2 linked regions of the Homo sapiens genome follow. The protein of the gene in region 1 purifies or fractionates together with the protein of each later gene. This does not show direct contact. Each region holds a gene or a part of one and is shown on either strand. Other genes may lie near its edges.

Region 1 (11,547 bases):
TGTCTTGGCCCAAGTTAAAGGATACTAACTCCTACCATCGTGTTGCTGAAGCAAAAATCACATGGGCAGCTCAGCTAGCAAGACTGAACGAAACAAAATTTAAAAGCAGGCAAGCCCTGTACCTCCTTTTGGTCTTGCAAAGCGTGAGCTGAGGAGGCGAGTGAGCAACTCCTCTACTCCCCAGCACTCATTCTTGTAAGGTGAAGGTGGAAACACCTCCTGCTACTGCTTGTGACCACATGGAAGATGATAGTGAAGGCTGGCATTTGGTTTGCAGAAGGACATGAGGAATCAGTTTCTTTTCTTTTCCTTTTTTTTTTTTTTGAGATGGAGTCTTGCTCTGTCACCCAGGCTGGAGTGCAGTGGCAAGATCTCGGCTCACTGCAACCTCCGCCTCCCAGGTTCAAGCGATTCTCCTGCCTCAGCCTCCCAAGTAGCTGGGATTACAGGCACACGCCACCATGCCCAGCTAATTTTTGTATTTTTAGTAGAGATGGGGTTTCACCATGTTGGTCAGGCTGGTCTCAAATTCCTGACCTCAGGTGATCCATCTGCCTTGGCCTCCCAGAGTGCTAGGATTATAGGCATGAGCCACCACGCCCGGCAGGGATCAGTTTCTGAGTTTTTTAACAGGATCAGTGACTTGATTTTTAATATGTAACAAGAGTACCCACTTTATTGACAACTATAAAATGATGTTCTATCTTTATGCCTTGGGCTTTCTTTCTGAAGGAAAAGTGAAAGTAAAGATGACTTTACGTTTATTTTAGACATGGCCTTGCTCTGTCGCCCAGGCAATCGGATGATCATGGCTCACTGTGGCCTCAACCTCCTAGCCTCAAGCAATCCTCCTGCCTTAGCATCCCAAGTAGCTGGAACTACAGGCACATGCCATCATATCCAGCTAATTTTTTATTTCCTGTAGAGATGGGGGTCTCACTATGTTGCCCAGGGTGGTTTAGAACTCCTGGCCTCAAGTGATCCTCTCCACCTCAGCCTGGGATTATAGGCGTGAGCCACTGTGCCCAGCATTAGTTTATTTGTAATGCTTTTTTACATCCTAGATGAGCACAATGCCTGGACTCCCCACCCGGCCCTGTTTTTATGATATTGATTTGGACCCTGAAACAGAACAGGTGAATGGATTATTCTAAACAGGTAAGTTGTTACTGGGTAATAATTTGGCTTTTTTCCTCATGTAGCTTATTTATGAATTATAGGGCTCAAACTGACGCTATAAAAATTCACATTCTAATGCTTTCAAAACATTTCTTTTCAGACTTCCCTGAGGGGAGAGGGGATAGTAATGAGAGTTGGCAATAACCAATGAATTGAAATATTTATATTTCAACACATTTTTGGAAGAAGCGCAGCATGGCTTGTCACAGGTTGACAGTGTAGGGGAGAAAACTGCTGTCCAATAAACTACAGAGGAAACTACAGGAGAGGTTAGACTCCCTCTGCTGAAGCCCCAGGAGGCTTGGGGTTCAGAGTTGATGACACATTGCAGGTCAGGAACAGCTGACGGTCTGTATACTCTGAATAGGTAGTTAGAAGGCAAGAATTAGCAAATGTCTTAGGAAGTATAATAGAAAAGAGAAGGAAACAGGACCAATCTGGCAGTTCTTAGGGCCTTAGGTGAAAGGGCCCTGAGTACCGACTGCAATGAGTGACATTGCATTGTTTGATATTTTTGAAATTTCAACAGGACGTGTCTCTCCTTAGGCAGACCCTTGGGGCTGAAGCAGCAAGTTGCAGTGTGCACTTATATCCCTAGACACATCCTGTTGAAACTGCAAAAATATCAAACATGAAAATCCTAACATCTTTCTCCAGAGACGAAAAAAGTGGCTTGCCTATGAAAAGAATGAGAACTAGACTTAACGCCCGTCTTACTGGCAATAAGAAGCTTTTAGACAATGGAGGAGTGTCCTGTAAGGTCACAGGGAAGATGACTTTCAACATGTGCTCACACCTAGCCGAATCTATCTGGATATTTTCAGACGTGCAAGGGTTTGCCACCCCACATCTCTTCCTAAGAAGTTATTTAGCAATGTACTTAGCAAAATGAGGAATTAACCAAGAAAAAAGGAAGACGTGAGTTTTGGGAAACTGAACCCTCATTTGGACATTAGCGAAGGGGCATTCTGATAACCATGCAAATGACCTGAAGTTACAAATCCTGTGTGGAACAGGTTGGGGGAGCACCTGAGAAAAACTAGAAAAAGCTAGAAAAGACAAGGATATCAAAGGGTCATAGTATAAAACAAAAGCTCTTGCATTATTTGAGAAAGTTAAGGTCCAAGTAGAAGCAAACTGTAGTTTGATGCTAGAACACTATTCTTTGAGAGGGTATGTGTGATACTCGAAATGCAGTCATGGCTCACGGCTTGGTCTGGTCTTGAACAGTATTCACACAGTACTATGGAAATACCATGCATCATTTTCAAGTCCATTTATGGACACGCCCTAGAAGAGCTGGTGGCAGGAAAGGATGTAAATGTTAACAGCTTTGGCAATGTGAGTGGGTAATGGTGCAGTATGGAAGGAACAGGAAACATTTCAGTGCTTGCTTAGAGAAAACATTTATTTCTTGTTTTTCCTTCCAGATCACCATCCATCTTCAAGAAGCTACTTTGAAAGTCTGGCCAGTGTCTATTCAGGCCCACTGGGAGTTAGGAAGTATAAGTAAGCCAAGAGAAGTCAGCCCCTGCCCAGAAGATCTGAAACTAATAGTAGGAGTTTCCCCAGAAGTCATTTTCAGCCTTAATTCTCATCATGTATAAATTAACATAAATCATGCATGTCTGTTTACTTTAGTGACGTTCCACAGAATAAAAGGAAACAAGTTTGCCATCTTGGTGTTGCAATATGAATTACAGCCTTAACAGACTGTGCCACAGGTCTCTGCCATCCTTTGTGAGCTCATTTGTCAGGCAGACCCTTGGGCTGAAGATGCAAGTTGCAGTGTGCCCTTTATGATACTGTTGTGTTTAGAGGGAAATGTATGCATGCTTGTGTATTTCTGAGAGGACACATAATTCAGGGGACCTCCTGAGAGGGTTGGGTTGGAAGTTGATGACTTACCTTTTAATCTTATACCTTTCTATATTGTTGAATTTTGTTTTTCTACCCTGAGGAAGTATTGCTTATACAAGTTTTTGCCTGAACTTCCTTGGAATTCCCATTTCTGTCACAGCTTTAGCACTGTCTATGTTTAGAGTGCTCAAGAAGGATGGTCATGCAGCATTAGCCTTAGGTGAGCCTCTATTCTGTTGGTGCAGCAAGTATTCATTGAGTTTCTTCTAAATGCCTGGGCTCCACCCTTCCCTACAGACTTTTTATTTTTATTTTTATTTTTTTGAGACAGTGTCTCTGTCGCCCAGGCTGGAGTGCAGTGGCGCGATCTCAGCTCACTGCAACCTCCGTCTCCTGGGTTCAAGTGATTCTCCTGCCTCAGCCTCCCAAGTAGCTGGGATTATAGGCATGAGCCACCATACCTGGCCCAGACTTTCTTTTTCCTAAAACATTAGGTTGGTAAAAACCACAATTACTTTTGCACCAACCTAATATTTTTTTTCCTCCTCTTCTGGCTGGGCGTGGAGGTGGCTCATGCCTGTAATCCCAGCACTTTGGGAGGCCGAGGTGGGCGGATCACTTGAGGTCTGGGGTTCAAGACCAGCTTGGCCAACATGGTAAAACCCTGTTTCTACCAAAAATACAAAAATTAGCTGGGTGTGGTGGCAGGCACCTATAACCCCAGGTACTTGGGAGGCTGAGGTACGAGAATTGCTTGAACCCAGGAGGCAGAGGTTGCAGTGAGCCAGGATCATGCTGCTGCACTCCAGCCTGGGAGACAGAGCTAGACTCTGTCTAAAAAAATAAATCAAATATTTTTCCTTCTCTTCTTGTTCTTTATCTTCTATCTCTGTTCTTCCTCTCCCATTTGTTTCCTTCCCTTTTTCCCCTTGTCTCCCTCCACTGGATCCTTCCAGAGGATGCTGCATCCCACTGGCGCCAGTGCTAAACACTGCTGATGTTGGCAAAGCAGTATTTTTCCCAGTGACCTTGGTTTTATTATTTTTAATTCCCTAGGTCCATGTCAATGTTGTAATACAGTCAATTTTACAGTCCACAGAAATGATAGCGCTGCCTTGAGAGGCATATGGCAAAGGGGTCACAGTGCAGAGCCCCAGCTCTATGGCAGAGAGCCTCACCCACCTCCCTGCCTCCACATCCTCACCATGGAAATAGGAGCACTGTTGGTACCTACCTCGTGAGGGCGGTTCTGGAATTACTCAAACACATCATCTAAGATGCTTTGTACAGGGCCTGGCACATTGTAAGCACTTGTCAGTTCCTGTTGCACAGCATCCTCCAGGCCCTGTTTGCAGAGTTAATTGCTTCTGGTACTTTTTTTTTCCTTTTTTTTTTTTTTTTTTGGCAGGGGGGGTAGGGGGGTTGGGACAAGAGTCGTGCTCTTTTGCCCAGGCTGCAGTGTAGTGACGTGATCTCAGCTCACTGCAACCTCTGCCTCCCGGGTTCAAGCGATTCTCCCACCTCAGCCTCCCGAGTAGCTGGGATTACAGGTTCGCACCACCATGCCTGGCTAATTTTTTGTATTTTCAGTATAGATGGGGTTTTGCCATGTTGGCCAGGCTGGTCTCAAACTCCTGGCCTCAAGTGATCCTCCCACCTCGGCCTCCCAAAGTGCTGGGATTACAGGCGTGAGCCACTGTGCCCGACCGCTTTCTGGTACATTTCTTAATGTCCTGTGAAACTTCACCTGGAATGGGATTTGCTGGGAATTCATTTTGTAGACAAGGGAAGGATGCAGTCTTGTCAGATATGGTGACTTAAGGATCATCTTAAAGGATTTAGGTTTCCTAATATCGCCAACAGCCACATGGGTTTAAATCCTCAATACTGGTAGGGGCTGGGCATGGTAGCTCACACCTGTAATCCCACCACACTCAGCTGAGTTTTGAAGTTCTGTTTTTTGTAGAGATGGGGTCTCACTGTCTTGTCCAGGCTGCTGAGGCAGGAGGATCACTTGAGCCCAGGAGTTCAAGACTAACCTGGACAAGACAGACCCCATCTCTACAAAAAACAAAACCCCAAAACTCAGCTGAGTGTGTGGTGCACGCTTGTAGTCCTAGCTCCTTGGGAGTCTGATGTGAGAGGTTTGCTTGAGCCTAGGAGTTCGAGGCCGCAGTGAGCTATGACTGAGCCACCGCATTCCAGCCTGAGCAACAGAGCAAGACCCTGTGTCAAAATAAAAAAGACCTATAGAAGCATTAGTGCTTGGGGTAACTATTAGCATGTGCTGGCAGAGAAGGTCTAGTGCCTTTACCTTGGTGCTAAGAGTCCCTCCAGATTAGTGGCTTTCCCGTGCCCTTTCTCTTCTCTGGGCTGCTAATGCCTTCCTTCCCCTTATTAGTAATATTACTGATAAACAAATTGTACATTCTCTGATCTCACTTCAGAGGCTGTTTCTGTGCACTGAAGATGTACACACAGTCTTAATTCAAAAGAGATAGCATTTATGTGCTGCCACATTAAACAGATTGCAACAGTATTACTATTGAGTTTGTGTTGGCTCTGTGCAACCCTCATGGTGCCCAGGAACAGATGAAACCACCAGAGACTTGGAGCCTCAGGTTCATTCAATGGTGTCCCAGGGAACGGGGTTGGAGGGCTTATTCCCAGAAGGCCTCTGAAATGTAAGAGCTATTAACAAGGAGTTATAAGTCATTTTTGGTAGCTATAGGCCCAGGCAATGGGTAGAGATCAAGATGGGATAAATGGTAAGATCAGTAGAGTATTGCTCAGATAAATATGTAAGCTATTTTACTGGCACACTGTATCTAGTGATATTAACATGATAAGCTATAGGTAGGATAATTTCTCATCAGATTGCAGAAATACATTTATAGCCTATTTCCTGTTATATAATGAAAAGCTACTAATGGGGTAGTAGACAATGATATGGGTAATAGCTTAAACAGCCTTCGTTGTCACTTACCTGAATTCAGGAATGACAGGTTTCTTTCATGCATGAGGTACTGGATACATTAAACACACACACACACACACACACACACACACACATATGGCATTGAGTTCTAGTCATATCCTAAAGAAAAACTATGGTGCGCTATGTTATTTATAGTACTATACTCTGTGTGAGTGACTCTGTGTGTATGTGTGTTGGTGGAGGTCAGGGATGACTTGTTTGTAATATACCTTAAGGAAGTCTGTCCGAATTTGCCCTTCAAATACTAAATAAATTCATCTCTCACCTCAAACTGCCTTTCAGTTCCCTTTTACTAATTTTGTTTAAAAGAAAGGCAAGTGAAGGCCAGGCATGGGGGCTCACACCTGTAATCCTAGCACTGTAGGAGGTCAAGGCAGGAGGATCACTTGAGCTCAGGAGTTCAAGACCAGCCTGGGCAACATAGGGAGACGCCATCTCTACAAAAAAAAAAAAAAGAAGAAGAACCTGGGCATGTGGTCGCATACCTGTGGTCCCAGCTGCATGGGAGGCTGAGGTGGGAGGATTGCTTGAGCCAGGGATTGTACCACTGCACTCCAGCCTGAGCAAGACCCTGTCTCAAATAAAAATAAAAATAAGACAGCTATTTTACCCTGTCTTCACCTAAATAAGCTCATCTTATTTTTTGCCTGAAACTCTTGCAAACTCCCAGGTCTGCTAGTTTTGAGAAACCTTGGATCTCAATAAGGAATAGTTCTCAATTGCTTATAAGCATAATGGATTTCTTTTGGCTTAAAGTTCAAAACTGGCAACAAGCAGCGCTAGCAACCCATAGAGAGATACGCAGACCATTTCGATAGACGTGTTTGCTGAGTGAACAAGGCTGACTGAATTTTTTTTTTTTTTTGAGGCAGGGTCTCACTTTGTTGCCCAGGCTGGCGTGCAGTGGTGCAGTAGTGGCTCACAGCAGCCTTGACCTTCTGGGCCCAAGTGATCCTCCCTTCTCAGCCTCCTGAGCTCCTGAGTAACTGGGACCATACGTGCACCACCATGCCCAGCTAATTTTTTAGATTTTTTTGTCTCCCTATGTTGCCCAGGCTGGTCTCAAACTCTTGGACTCAAGCCATCCTCCTGCCTTGGCCTCCCAAAGTGCTGGGATTACAGGTGTGAGCTACTGCGCCCATCCCTGAATTCTTAATTACAACTAAACTAGATGCTTATGGATTTTCCTGTTTTACAACTCTTGCCTCTTTTATCTGTAATTTTAAGATCTTGACAGCTTATATTTGGCTTTGCTTTTGTGTCTCAAGAGTTCTTTCCTTGATAAGCCTCTGTGGAAACTACAGAATCTTACAAATATAAAACATTTCCGGAAAAAATACAAAAATGGACACCTGACATTTACACTCCCTAAGGTCGTGATCCTGTTGAAGAAAGGAGATGAACGCGGCTGCTTTTCAGTAGTTCTTCACTTCACCTTACCAGGTTCTTCATCTGGATGCTATGCTATGGGGGCCAGAGGAGGAGGCTGGGATTGTGATGGATCCTACTAGATTTTACAGCTGGAGCTCCCAGGAATGCCCTCATAGGGAATGTCCTGAAGGGAATCATGGGTAACTTGTAAGCTACCTCAACTTATTTTTGGAACTATGTAAGGTATAAGATGGATGGAGCTGGGTTCCTGTGCCTTTCTCACCTTGTCCGCATAGAGATGCAGCTGCTCCTGCAGGCCAAAGTTCTGCACCAATCACCTCCACCTGCTTCCCACTGGGAGACAAAGGTTTGAAAGCCTGTTTGGCGATGAACCACGATGATCTGACACTCAAGCCACTCCTGAGAAAGTCGGGTTTCTTTCTGTTTCCATTTATATATGTAATTTTCGCTTCAAACAAACATGACCTCGCTATTCTATGCACAGTTTTGAATCCTGCTTTTAAAATGCGATGTCTGCCTTGTCTTTAAATATTCTGAGGGGGAGGAGAGGAGATGTGTAATGCGACTGTCTATAATTTGAAACCGGACCTCACTATTTAGCGTCTCAGAAAACGCGGGGTTCATTGCCCTGGTCCCCCCCGCCTTCCCCCGCCCCCCGAACCTTCCGGCTGGCTCTCTTGCGGTCCCCGCCTCGGCGCTGATGTGGTCTGGCAGTGGAGATTGGCGCCCGGGCGGAGCACGATGGGCTTCCCCGCGGCAGGCAGGCAGGCTGCTGCTGCAGGTGGGTCCCGGCGCCCGCGCCGCCCCGCGCCTCCGGCGGTCGCCCCGCCCCTGCCCGCCCGCTCCGCTCCGCTCGCATTGGCGCTGCCTGCTGTCTGTCCCCGCGCGGTGGGGAGGGGGCGCACCCGGCGGCGGGCTCTGCAGAGGGCGCCTTGCTCCGGGTGCGACCGCGGCTCCCTGGAGGCCTGGGCGGCGGGCCCCGCGAGCGCGCCGCCACCTCGGGAGCAGTGTTGGCCAAGGACCCCGACGCCCTACGTAAGTAAAGGCAGGGCGGGGAGCCTGCGGGGGAGGAGGGTCGGGGGCAATGTCCGGTCCGCGGACCGCGGAGTGGGCAAGAGGTGCCCACTGGATACGGGGTATCCGAGCCCTCTGAGGTGCTGGGAGTAAGAACGCGGGAGGTCGCTTGTCCGCTGGAATCCGCGGCCAGGGCGACCCTCATCAGGTCTGCCCACCTATCCCCTTCGCGTTACAGCTTGTCTTAGAAGCATGGGTTGCCGGTGGCTTTTTTCCTTCTTTATCCCTCTTTGAGAAATGTGATTTTGGGTTTCTGGCCATTACATTATAATTCTGCAGACAGCCTGAAGCTGGGTTATCTGTTCCACGCCCCCGGCATTTTCCTTTTTGAGTACTTTATCCTGCGCTCTGTCTCCTGCCATAAGGGGCGTCAAGCCAGAATTCGAGATTCCTTCCTCCAGGAGGAAGCTTCGTGGTCCGTATCTGGTGCTGGGAAAGATGCATTGCTTTCCTCGGGTACTGGCTGCTCAAGGGAAAAAGGAAAGGGGGTGTTTTCTGTGACATGAGACTTGCAATTCCATCAGGAAATGAGCACAGGGACTTTAAGATTTCCTGAGGCGATAAAGCTACCCTTGCTGGTTAAGAGCGAATCATTTGCAGTCTGACATTCTGCAAAGTTTTATTGTCTACAGACTGCATTATTTTCCCTCGTTAGTTAAGTTTCTGTTTGGGTATTCGTTTTATTTCTAGTATGTGAGATACATTCAAGTGAGCTTCTCAAACGATTGTCTTTGCGCAATCCAGGTTAGTTTCCAATGACAGACTCCTAAACATCTCATTTCAATATTTCTATTATGTGGTAATACAGCCTCTGCTTAACAAAAATGCTCAGGTGCTGAAAACTCACAAGAGGTGAGAAGATTTAAACAGTTATCAGCTTAGGTTCTAGTGCTCACTGAAACATTGTGAGGAGAAACACTGTCAAATGTTCATATTTTAGTTCCGTCATTGTTCTAGAATGACTTTATCTTTCTGTTAGAGGCACACAGTATGAAACACCCAACCTAAGATAATATTTACTTAGATCATAAACTGATTTTCAGGGTTCCAGTTCCTTCTACAGTTCATAAAATTATGGGTTACCCAAATGAAACTTCAGTGAAGGATTTACATAAAAACAATATAAAGAATGAGTCCCTTTGCTTATTTTAGGGCATCCACCCACTAAAATTCATAGGATCTTTGTTGGATAATCACCTCCCATTTCCATTCTTTGGTGCCATCATACCATTCTAAGGATTAAATTTTCAATACACCTTTATATTATCTAAGTTTGCCAATTGCATAGTTTGCCAACTTATTTTTGGCTTTTAAATTAGTTCCTGAACCAAAAAAATAAAATATAAAGAATTTCAAAAGCTTGGTTTTCAAATGACAAGAACTCAGTCTACTCGTGGTTCAATTATGAGTTGATAAGTGCCTTATGGTTAAATGACCATTAATCAATTTTTTAATTTTTTTACTAATGAAACACTGCAGATTAGTATCCCCAAACAATTCATTTTCTGACGAAACTCTTAAAGCCCAGTTTCAGAACATAAGCTTTAAGCAACAAGCAATCTTGTGTTAATCTGAGCTCTGTTACAGCTCTGCCGTAATCTCAGCCAAATTGCTTCATCTGTACGTGGTGATACCACCATCTTTGTAATATTGTGGTGAGGATTAGAGATGTATGTAAAAGTGCATGCACTGCCTAATACCCAAGAATTGCTCAATAAATGTCAGCTATTACTACTCTTACTGACTTCCAACTATGTGCAGATTATGGTGGAAACATGTGATACAGCAGATACAGTACTTAAATGAAAATGTCAAAATTGTACAACTAATTTAAGAGTGGGAAATGACAGTAATGCTAAATTTTCCTAAGAATATGTATGAAAAATAGCACTTCCTTGATGGAACATACATTTTTAGAACAGAAACCTTATGTTATAATGGTAAAACTAGAGAGTCAAAGTCTCTAGTTCTAACTCTGGCTATGACCTTATCTAGTTGCATGGCTTTTGACAAGACAACTGCTCCCCTCTGGAGTTCAGTTTTGTCATCTGGCTGGATTTGAGTAATCTCAAATAATCTCTAAAGTCCTTTGCAGCTTTAAAATTATCTATTGAGTGTGATAAAGATTACATCAGCTTGCTTTTCATCCTGCACTTCATTTTTGGTTCTTGTTGTTTGCTTAACTTGCACTTTAGAGTCATAAGCAATTCACACAGACAACACAACTAAAGAACTGATAATATCAGACTTGCAGGGTAATCCAAAATGAAGTTTCAACAAGGAGGATAAAACAAAATAGAATCACACTGAACTCTTTAATAGGGCCAAAGTAAACCCCAATGTTTATTCTCCAGTCATTTCATTAAGTTATTATATGGAAAATATGCCTGGTAGAATCTTATACATTCACTGAAATAGTCTCCACAGAAAATAATAGGCTCATAGTGAAATAAAATACCACTTTCTTTTCTCTCATCAGGTTGATCTTTAAATAAAGCAAAAATTTATCCAAAGAAGGGCTTTCATCAAGAAATTAAAGAGAGAAATTACAAGCCATAGAGAAACTGGGCATTTCTATACTAGAGAAACCACCTAAAACAACTGTATGGAGTAAGATGAAAGGTATGAATATGCCTGGAAGAAATTTTACCTAGTGTGACATTTTTGCTCATCTTTTTGTCACAAAAGGCTGCTAAGGAAGAGAGAATACAGTTTTCTAGAGAATAAGAGTGCAGTGTAAAAATGGAAACCACAATTTCAGAAATTCATGTAGAAAACAAGGATGAGAAGAGATCAGCAGAAGGTAGTCCTGGGGCTGAAAGGCAGAAGGAAAAGGCATCCATGCTTTGCTTCAAGAGAAGAAAGAAAGCAGCCAAAGCACTGAAGCCCAAAGCTGGCTCTGAAGCTGCTGATGTGGCAAGGAAGTGTCCACAAGAAGCAGGAGCTTCTGATCAGCCAGAGCCCACACGGGGGGCCTGGGCCTCACTCAAACGTCTTGTAACACGCAGGAAAAGGTCAGAGTCTTCAAAGCAGCAAAAGCCATT
Region 2 (11,177 bases), on another chromosome or scaffold:
CATGTGCCATGCTGGTGCGCTGCACCCACTAACTCGTCATCTAGCATTAGGTATATCTCCCAATGCTATCCCTCCCCCCTCCCCCCACCCCGTAACAGTCCCCAGAGTATGATGTTCCCCTTCCTGTGTCCATGTGTTCTCATTGTTCAGTTCCCACCTATGAGTGAGAATATGCAGTGTTTGGTTTTTTGTTCTTGCGATAGTTTACTGAGAATGATGATTTCCAATTTCATCCATGTCCCTACGAAGGACATGAACTCATCATTTTTTATGGCTGCATAGTATTCCATGGTGTATATGTGCCACATTTTCTTAATTCAGTCTATCTTTGTTGGACATTTGGGTTGGTTCCAAGTCTTTGCTATTGTGAATAATGCCGCAATAAACATACGTGTGCATGTGTCTTTATAGCAGCATGATTTATAGTCCTTTGGGTATATACCCAGTAATGGGATGGCTGGGTCAAATGGTATTTCTAGTTCTAGATCCCTGAGGAATCGCCACACTGACTTCCACAATGGTTGAACTAGTTTACAGTCCCACCAACAGTGTAAAAGTGTTCCTATTTCTCCACATCCTCTCCAGCACCTGTTATTTCCTGACTTTTTAATGTTTGCCATTCTAACTGGTGTGAGATGATATCTCATTGTGGTTTTGATTTGCATTTCTCTGATGGCCAGTGATGGTGAGCATTTTTTCATGTGTTTTTTGGCTGCATAAATGTCTTCTTTTGAGAAGTGTCTGTTCATGTCCTTTGCCCACTTTTTGATGGGGTTGTTTATTTTTTTCTTGTAAATTTGTTTGAGTTCATTGTAGATTCTGGATATTAGCCCTTTGTCAGATGAGTAGGTTGCAAGAATTTTCTCCCATTTTGTAGGTTGCCTGTTCACTCTGATGGTAGTTTCTTTTGATGTGCAGAAGCTCTTTAGTTTAATTAGATCCCATTTGTCAATTTTGGCTTTTGTTGCCATTGCTTTTGGTGTTTTAGACATGAAGTCCTTGCCCATGCCTATGTCCTGAATGGTAATGCCTAGGTTTTCTTCTAGGGTTTTTATGGTTTTAGGTCTAACGTTTAAGTCTTTAACCCATCTTGAATTGATTTTTGTATAAGGTGTAAGGAAGGGATCCAGTTTCAGCTTTCCACATATGGCTAGCCAGTTTTCCCAGCACCATTTATTAAATAGGGAATCCTTTCCCCATTGCTTGTTTTTCTCAGGTTTGTCAAAGATCAGATAGTTGTAGATATGTGGCATTATTTCTGAGGGCTCTGTTCTGTTCCATTGATCTATATCTCTGTTTTGGTACCAGTAACATGCTGTGTTGGTTACTGTAGCCATGTAGTATAGTTTGAAGTCAGGTAGTGAGATGCCTCCAGCTTTGTTCTTTTGGCTTAGGATTGATTTGGCGATGCGGGCTCTTTTTTGGTTCCATATGAACTTTAAAGTAGTTTTTCCAATTCTGTGAAGAAAGTCATTGGTAGCTTGATGGGGATGGCATTGAATCTATAAATTACCTTGGGCAGTATGGCCATTTTCATGATACTGATTCTTCCTACCCATGAGCATGGAATGTTCTTCCATTTGTTTGTATCTTCTTTTATTTCCTTGAGCAGTGGTTTGTAGTTCTCCTTGAAGAGGTCCTTCACATCCCTTGTAAGTTGGATTCCTAGGTATTTTATTCTCTTTGAAGCAATTGTGAATGGGAGTTCACTCATGATTTGGCTCTCTGTTTGTCTGTTGTTGGTGTATAAGAATGCCTGTGATTTTTGTACATTGATTTTGTATCCTGAGACTTTGCTGAAGTTGCTTATCAGCTTAAGGAGATTTTGGGCTGAGACAATGGGGTTTTCTAGATATACAATCATGTCTGCAAACAGGGACAATTTGACTTCCTCTTTTCCTAATTGAATACCCTTTATTTCCTTCTCCTGCCTAATTGCCCTGGCCAGAACTTCCAACACTATGTTGAATAGGAGTGGTGAGAGAGGGCATCCCTGTCTTGTGCCAGTTTTCAAAGGGAATGCTTCCAGTTTTTGCCCATTCAGTATGATATTGGCTGTGGGTTTGTCATAGATAGCTCTTATTATTTTGAAATACGTCCCATCAATACCTAATTTATTGAGAGTTTTTAGCGTGTTGAATTTTGTCAAAGGCCTTTTCTGCATCTATTGAGATAATCATGTGGTTTTTTCTTTGGTTCTGTTTATATGCTGGATTACATTTATTGATTTCCATATATTGAACCAGCCTTGCATCCCAGGGATGAAGCCCACTTGATCATGGTGGATAAGCTTTTGGATGTGCTGCTGGATTTGGTTTGCCAGTATTTTATTGAGGATTTTTGCATCAATGTTCATCAAGGATATTGGACTAAAATTCTCTTTTTTGGTTGTGTCTCTGCCTGGCTTTGGTATCAGGATGATGCTGGCCTCATAAAATGAGTTAGGGAGGATTCCCTCTTTTTCTATTGATTGGAATAGTTTCAGAAGGAATGGTACCAATTCATCCTTGTACCTCTGGTAGAATTCGGCTGTGAATCCATCTGGTCCTGGACTCTTTTTGGTTGGTAAGCTATTGATTATTGCCACAATTTCAGATCCTGTTATTGGTCTATTCAGAGATTCAACTTCTTCCTGGTTTAGTCTTCAGAGAGTGTATGTGTCGAGGAATTTATCCATTTCTTCTAGATTTTCTAGTTTATTTGCGTAGAGGTGTTTGTAGTATTCTCTGATGGTAGTTTGTATTTCTGTGGGATTGGTGGTGATATCCCCTTTATCATTTTTTATTGCGTCTATTTGATTCTTCTCTCTTTTTTCTTTATTAGTCTTGCTAGCAGTCTATCAATTTTGTTGATCCTTTCAAAAAACCAGCTCCTGGATTCATTAATTTTTTGAAGGGTTTTTTGTGTCTCTATTTCCTTCAGTTCTGCTCTGATTTTAGTTATTTCTTGCCTTCTGCTAGCTTTTGAATGTGTTTGCTCTTGCTTTTCTAGTTCTTTTAATTGTGATGTTAGGGTGTCAATTTTGGATCTTTCCTGCTTTCTCTTGTGGGCATTTAGTGCCATAAATTTCCCTCCACACACTGCTTTGAATGTGTCCCAGAGATTCTGGTATGTTGTGTGTTTGCTCTCGTTGGTTTCAAAGAACATCTTTATTTCTGCCTTCATTTCGTTATGTACCCAGTAGTCATTCAGGAGCAGGTTGTTCAGTTTCCATGTAGTTGAGCGGTTTTGAGTGAGATTCTTAATCCTGAGTTCTAGTTTGATTGCACTGTGGTCTGAGAGATAGTTTGTTATAATTTCTGTTCTTTTACATTTGCTGAGGAGAGCTTTACTTCCAACTCTGTGGTCAATATTGGAATAGGTGTGGTGTGGTGCTGAAAAAAATGTATATTCTGTTGATTTGGGGTAGAGAGTTCTGTAGATGTCTATTAGGTCCACTTGGTGCAGAGCTGAGTTCAATTCCTTGTTGACTTTCTGTCTCATTGATCTGTCTAATGTTGACAGTGGGGTGTTAAAGTCTCCCATTATTAATGTGTGGGAGTCTAAGTCTTTTTGTAGGTCACTCAGGACTTGCTTTATGAATCTGGGTGCTCCTGTATTGGGTGCATATATATTTAGGATAGTTAGCTCTTCTTGTTGAATTGATCCCTTTACCATTATGTAATGGCCTTTTTTGACTCTTTTGATCTTTGTTGGTTTAAAGTCTGTTTTATCAGAGACTAGGATTGCAACCCCTGCCTTTTTTTGTTTTCCATTTGCTTGGTAGATCTTCCTCCATCCTTTTATTTTGAGCCTATGTGTGTCTCTGCATGTGAGATGGGTTTCCTGAATACAGCATACTGATGGGTCTTGACTCTTTATCCAATTTGCCAAGTCTGTGTCTTTTAATTGGAGAATTTAGTCCATTTACATTTAAAGTTAATATTGTTATGTGTGAATTTGATCCTGTCATTATGATGTTAGCTTGTTATTTTGCTCGTTAGTTGATGCAGTTTCTTCATAGTCTCGATGGTCTTTACATTTTGGCATGATTTTGCAGCAACTGGTACCGGTTGTTCCTTTCCATGTTTAGCACTTCCTTCAGGAGCTCTTTTAGGGCAGGCCTGGTGGTGACAAAGTCTCTCAACATTTGCTTGTCTGTAAAGTATTTTATTTCTCCTTCACTTATGAAGCTTAGTTTGGCTGGATATGAGATTCTGGGTTGAAAATTCTCTTCTTTAAGAATGTTGAATATTGGCACCCACTCTCTTCTGGCTTGTAGAGTTTCTGCCGAGAGATCCGCTGTTAGTCTGATGGGCTTCCCTTTGAGGGTAACCTGACCTTTCTCTCTGGCTGCCCTTAACATTTTTTCCTTCATTTCAACTTTGGTGAATCTGACAATTATGTGTCTTGGAGTTGCTCTTCTCGAGGAGTATCTTTGTGGCGTTCTCTGTATTTCCTGAATCTGAATGTTGGCCTGCCTTGCTAGATTGGGGAAGTTCTCCTGGATAATATCCTGCAGAGTGTTTTCCAACTTGGTTCCATTCTCCCCATCACTTTCAGGTACACCAATCAGACGTAGATTTGGTCTTTTCACATAGTCCCATATTTCTTGGAGGCTTTGCTCGTTTCTTTTTATTCTTTTTTCTCTAAACTTCCCTTCTCGCTTCATTTCATTCATTTCATCTTCCATTGCTGATACCCTTTCTTCCAGTTGATCGCATCGGCTCCTGAGGCTTCTGCATTCTTCACGTAGTTCTCGAGCCTTGGTTTTCAGCTCCATCAGCTCCTTTAAGCACTTCTCTGTATTGGTTATTCTAGTTATACATTCTTCTAAATTTTTTTCAAAGTTTTCAACTTCTTTGCCTTTGGTTTGAATGTCCTCCCGTAGCTCAGAGTAATTTGATCGTCTGAAGCCTTCTTCTCTCAGCTCGTCAAAGTCATTCTCCGTCCAGCTTTGTTCCGTTGCTGGTGAGGAACTGCGTTCCTTTGGAGGAGGAGAGGCGCTCTGCTTTTTAGAGTTTCCAGTTTTTCTGCTCTGTTTTTTCCCCATCTTTGTGGTTTTATCTACTTTTGGTCTTTGATGATGGTGATGTACAGATGGGTTTTTGGTGTGGATGTCCTTTCTGTTTGTTAGTTTTCCTTCTAACAGACAGGACCCTCAGCTGCAGGTCTGTTGGAGTACCTGGCCCTATGAGGTGTCAGTGTTCCCCTGCTGGGGGGTGCCTCCCAGTTAGGCTGCTCAGGGGTCAGGGGTCAGGGACCCACTTGAGGAAGCAGTCTGCCCGTTCTCAGATCTCCAGCTGTGTGCTGGGAGAACCACTGCTCTCTTCAAAGCTGTCAGACAGGGACATTTAAGTCTGCAGAGGTTACTGCTGTCTTTTTGTTTGTCTGTGCCCTGCCCCCAGAGGTGGAGCTTACAGAGGCAGGCAGGCCTCCTTGAGCTGTGGTGGGCTCCACCCAGTTCGAGCTTCCCAGCTGCTTTGTTTACCTAAGCAAGCCTGGGCAATGGCGGGCGCCCCTCCCCCAGCCTCACTGCCACCTTGCAGTTTGATCTCAGACTGCTGTGCTAGCAATCAGCGAGACTCCGTGGGCGTAGGTCCCTCCAAGCCAGGTGCAGGATATAATCTCCTGGTGCGCCGTTTTTTAAGCCCGTGGGAAAAGCGCAGTATTCGGGTGGGAGTGACCTGATTTTCCAGGTGCCGTCTGTCACCCCTTTCTTTGACTAGGAAAGGGAACTCCCTGACCCCTTGCGCTTCCTGAGTGAGGCAATGCCTTGCCCTGCTTCGGCTCGCACACGGTGCGTGCACCCACTGACCTGCGCCCACTGTCTGGCACTCCCTAGTGAGATGAACCTGGTACCTCAGATGGAAATGCAGAAATCACCCGTCTTCTGTGTCCCTCACGCTGGGAGCTGTAGACCGTACCTGTTCCTATTCGGCCATCTTGGCTTCTCCTCTTATCCCAGAAATTTCTTAAGTATTTTGTTGACCTGCATACTTCCTTGAATCAAAATGTTGAGGTTAATAGCTAACCTACTGCTTGCTGCTTCTTCTAGCACTATTATATTTTAGGAACCTAATGGCATCTAAGGATTTCACCGTGTAATAACAGTGGGAATTTATTTTTCTTGGTGTTTGGAAACTCTCAGGAATTTTTTTTTCCTTTTTCTTATTTTTCTCTCCCTCTCAATTATAGGTTGAAGCTCCATTCATACCAAAGTTTAGAGGCTCTGGAGATACCAGCAACTTTGATGACTATGAAGAAGAAGATATCCGTGTCTCTATAACAGAAAAATGTGCAAAAGAATTTGGTGAATTTTAAAGAGGAACAAGATGACATCTGAGCTCACACTCAGTGTTTGCACTCTGTTGAGAGATAAGGTAGAGCTGAGACCGTCCTTGTTGAAGCAGTTACCTAGTTCCTTCATTCCAACGACTGAGTGAGGTCTTTATTGCCATCATCCCGTGTGCGCACTCTGCATCCACCTATGTAACAAGGCACCGCTAAGCAAGCATTGTCTGTGCCATAACACAGTACTAGACCACTTTCTTACTTCTCTTTGGGTTGTCTTTCTCCTCTCCTATATCCATTTCTTCCTTTTCCAATTTCATTGGTTTTCTCTAAACAGTGCTCCATTTTATTTTGTTGGTGTTTCAGATGGGCAGTGTTATGGCTACGTGATATTTGAAGGGAAGGATAAGTGTTGCTTTCAGTAGTTATTGCCAATATTGTTGTTGGTCAATGGCTTGAAGATAAACTTTCTAATAATTATTATTTCTTTGAGTAGCTCAGACTTGGTTTTGCCAAAACTCTTGGTAATTTTTGAAGATAGACTGTCTTATCACCAAGGAAATTTATACAAATTAAGACTAACTTTCTTGGAATTCACTATTCTGGCAATAAATTTTGGTAGACTAATACAGTACAGCTAGACCCAGAAATTTGGAAGGCTGTAGATCAGAGGTTCTAGTTCCCTTTCCCTCCTTTTATATCCTCCTCTCCTTGAGTAATGAAGTGACCAGCCTGTGTAGTGTGACAAACGTGTCTCATTCAGCAGGAAAAACTAATGATATGGATCATCACCCAGATTCTCTCACTTGGTACCAGCATTTCTGTAGGTATTAGAGAAGAGTTCTAAGTTTTCTAAACCTTAACTGTTCCTTAAGGATTTTAGCCAGTATTTTAATAGAACATGATTAATGAAAGTGACAAATTTTAAATTTTCTCTAATAGTCCTCATCATAAACTTTTTAAAGGAAAATAAGCAAACTAAAAAGAACATTGGTTTAGATAAATACTTATACTTTGCAAAGTCAAAAATGGCTTGATTTTTGGAAACAATATAGAGGTATTCATATTTAAATGAGGGTTTACATTTGTTTTGTTTTGTAACCGTTAAAAAGAAGTTGTTTCCAGCTAATTATTGTGGTGTACTATATTTGTGAGCCTAGGGTAGGGGCACTGCTGCAACTTCTGCTTTCATCCCATGCCTCATCAATGAGGAAAGGGAACAAAGTGTATAAAACTGCCACAATTGTATTTTAATTTTGAGGTATGATATTTTCAGATATTTCATAATTTCTAACCTCTGTTCTCTCAGTAAACAGAATGTCTGATCGATCATGCAGATACAATGTTGGTATTTGAGAGGTTAGTTTTTTTCCTACACTTTTTTTTGCCAACTGACTTAACAACATTGCTGTCAGGTGGAAATTTCAAGCACTTTTGCACATTTAGTTCAGTGTTTGTTGAGAATCCATGGCTTAACCCACTTGTTTTGCTATTTTTTTCTTTGCTTTTAATTTTCCCCATCTGATTTTATCTCTGCGTTTCAGTGACCTACCTTAAAACAACACACGAGAAGAGTTAAACTGGGTTCATTTTAATGATCAATTTACCTGCATATAAAATTTATTTTTAATCAAGCTGATCTTAATGTATATAATCATTCTATTTGCTTTATTATCGGTGCAGGTAGGTCATTAACACCACTTCTTTTCATCTGTACCACACCCTGGTGAAACCTTTGAAGACATAAAAAAAACCTGTCTGAGATGTTCTTTCTACCAATCTATATGTCTTTCGGTTATCAAGTGTTTCTGCATGGTAATGTCATGTAAATGCTGATATTGATTTCACTGGTCCATCTATATTTAAAACGTGCAAGAAAAAAATAAAATACTCTGCTCTAGCAAGTTTTGTGTAACAAAGGCATATCGTCATGTTAATAAATTTAAAACATCATTCGTATAAAATATTTTAATTTTCTTGTATTTCATTTAGACCCAAGAACATGCTGACCAATGTGTTCTATATGTAAACTACAAATTCTATGGTAGCTTTGTTGTATATTATTGTAAAATTATTTTAATAAGTCATGGGGATGACAATTTGATTATTACAATTTAGTTTTCAGTAATCAAAAAGATTTCTATGAATTCTAAAAAATATTTTTTTCTATGAAATTACTAGTGCCCAGCTGTAGAATCTACCTTAGGTAGATGATCCCTAGACATACGTTGGTTTTGAGGGCTATTCAGCCATTCCATTTTACTCTCTATTTAAAGGCCGTGAGCAAGCTTGTCATGAGCAAATATGTCAAGGGAGTCAATTTCTGACCAATCAAGTACACTAAATTAGAATATTTTTAAAGTATGTAACATTCCCAGTTTCAGCCACAATTTAGCCAAGAATAAGATAAAAACTTGAATAAGAAGTAAGTAGCATAAATCAGTATTTAACCTAAAATTACATATTTGAAACAGAAGATATTATGTTATGCTCAGTAAATAATTAAGAGATGGCATTGTGTAAGAAGGAGCCCTAGACTGAAAGTCAAGACATCTGAATTTCAGGCTGGAAAACTATCAGTATGATCTCAGCCTCAGTTCTCTTGTCTGTAAAATGGAAGAACTGGATTAGGCAGTTTGTAAGATTCCTCCTAACTTTCACAGTCGATGACAAGATTGTCTTTTTATCTGATATTTTGAAGGGTATATTGCTTTGAAGTAAGTCTCAATAAGGCAATATATTTTAGGGCATCTTTCTTCTTATCTCTGACAGTGTTCTTAAAATTATTTGAATATCATAAGAGCCTTGGTGTCTGTCCTAATTCCTTTCTCACTCACCGATGCTGAATACCCAGTTGAATCAAACTGTCAACCTACCAAAAACGATATTGTGGCTTATGGGTATTGCTGTCTCATTCTTGGTATATTCTTGTGTTAACTGCCCATTGGCCTGAAAATACTCATTGTAAGCCTGAAAAAAAAAATCTTTCCCACTGTTTTTTCTGCTTGTTGTAAGAATCAAATGAAATAATGTATGTGAAAGCACCTTGTAAACTGTAACCTATCAATGTAAAATGTTAAGGTGTGTTGTTATTTCATTAATTACTTCTTTGTTTAGAATGGAATTTCCTATGCACTACTGTAGCTAGGAAATGCTGAAAACAACTGTGTTTTTTAATTAATCAATAACTGCAAAATTAAAGTACCTTCAATGGATAAGACAATTGATTGAGTCGTGAATTCTACTTGGTGCCCTCATCTCCTGATTTATTTTCCGCTGATACAAGAGATGCTTATAGATTCCTAGTTTTTATGTGTTTGGGTTGATTTCTGGGTGGTGGGAGCAGAGCACATTGGGGAGGAATATATCCGCCAGTCTACTCACACTGGATGTTTACTAAGAAACTGCTAGATTCATTTAATAGTTTCTCAAAAGTGTTTCTACTTCTTTCTCATTTCTCATATTGGTTCAGATTACTGCTAACATAATGTTCTAAATATTCATATTTAAAGGATTTGATTCTTCAAGAGCACTCATCCTTCTATTGTAACAATGAAATATTAATTTCTAATTTTTTCTTCAGGAGTGTTTTTGAGCTTCACATTACCTCTTTTCATTTTAGACAGGTTAATTAGTGTGTATTTCCATAGTTGTCTTTTACCTCAAGAAATAATCATTTCTTTAGGTAATTATTTTAATGGCTTGCCATTTTGTATGATTGTTCTTGCAAACATTTCTATTTATGCATTTTATAACATGGAGCTTACTATTTTTATACCAGTGCTCGCTTCATTTTATCATTATCAGGGCTTAATATAAATGCAGTTTTCTCATTTCCTTGTAAAACTAATTACAAAAATCTAGGTATGTCTTTACTGAAGAACTATCATCATTTGAAATCTATTTAGCTGTAAATTTTCTCTTGTGCACAAATACTGGATGTGAAGTTAAGTACTTTTCATTTAAGCTTTCCTGAAGATTTTCCATATGCTTATTTAATAGCCTTTATGCCTGTTGTTATGACCTGGATTGTGAACTGTGAACAAAATTCATACTGAAATTCTAACCACTAGTACCTCAGCATGTGATTGTTTTAGGAGGTAAGGCCTTTGAAGAGGTAATTAAAGTAAAATGAGGTCATATGGGAAGACTTCATCCAAGATGACTGATGTCCTCATAAGAAGCACACAGACAAAGGGAGGACCACGTAAAGACATAGGAAGAAGATGACCATCTATAGGGCAAGGACAGAGGCCTCCAAAGAAGCTGACTTTGCCAACATCTTGACTTGGGACTTCTAGACTCAAGAATTGTGAAAAATAAATTTCAGTTGTTTAAGCTGCCCAGTCTGTGATACTTCATCATGGCAGCCATAACAAACTATAATACACCCGCTGAGCTAAGTATTCTCATGGTGAAAGACTTGCATTGATTTCCCTTCATATGCTTTATACGTGGGCAAAACTGAATTTACCACAGGCAAAAAAAAAAATCAGTGTGGTCACAAACCTCAGTGCACCTGCTATCTTGTTTCTATTCTTCCTGGAATACAAGCAGGAAGTAGGAAACAGTAGCCACTGAGATACTGGGAGTAAGGGAAGGCATGAGTAACTCAAACCACTACTACTTCCAGGTCAGACTTACCCATGGAAGGATAGCCCTTCTCTCAAAGCAGTGCTAATATAACATAAAATTAAGCACACCAGATTCATTGAGTTTACAGTCTCTGCTCATCTTTTAGTGGTGATACTAACAATGAAATGGCCAAAAGGAAAGTGGGAGTGCAAATAAAGGGTTAATGAGAATACCCCAGCTGGTTCTTCCTCTCCTGATTATCAGAGGTTAGTAATGCTCACAGCAAATGATGACCTTAATGTATTAGTTTTCTACTGCTGCTCTAACAA

What was found.
Region 2: the proteins of AKAP5 (region 1) and PRKACB purify together in Homo sapiens (affinity purification with mass spectrometry; 5 studies listed by BioGRID and IntAct, with this or other methods). This does not show direct contact.

What each region holds. Positions count from the first base shown.
Region 1 is NC_000014.9:64,457,150-64,468,696, forward strand, and holds the start of AKAP5 (A-kinase anchor protein 5), read left to right. Parts: upstream 1-8,349; 5' UTR 8,350-8,464; intron 8,465-10,982; 5' UTR 10,983-11,245; coding exon 11,246-11,547. Other genes in the region: MTHFD1 (C-1-tetrahydrofolate synthase, cytoplasmic), read left to right, coding at 2,610-2,786. UniProt on the Homo sapiens protein: Multivalent scaffold protein that anchors the cAMP-dependent protein kinase/PKA to cytoskeletal and/or organelle-associated proteins, targeting the signal carried by cAMP to specific intracellular effectors.
Region 2 is NC_000001.11:84,229,003-84,240,179, forward strand, and holds the end of PRKACB (cAMP-dependent protein kinase catalytic subunit beta), read left to right. Parts: intron 1-6,177; coding exon 6,178-6,303; 3' UTR 6,304-9,496; downstream 9,497-11,177. UniProt on the Homo sapiens protein: Mediates cAMP-dependent signaling triggered by receptor binding to GPCRs.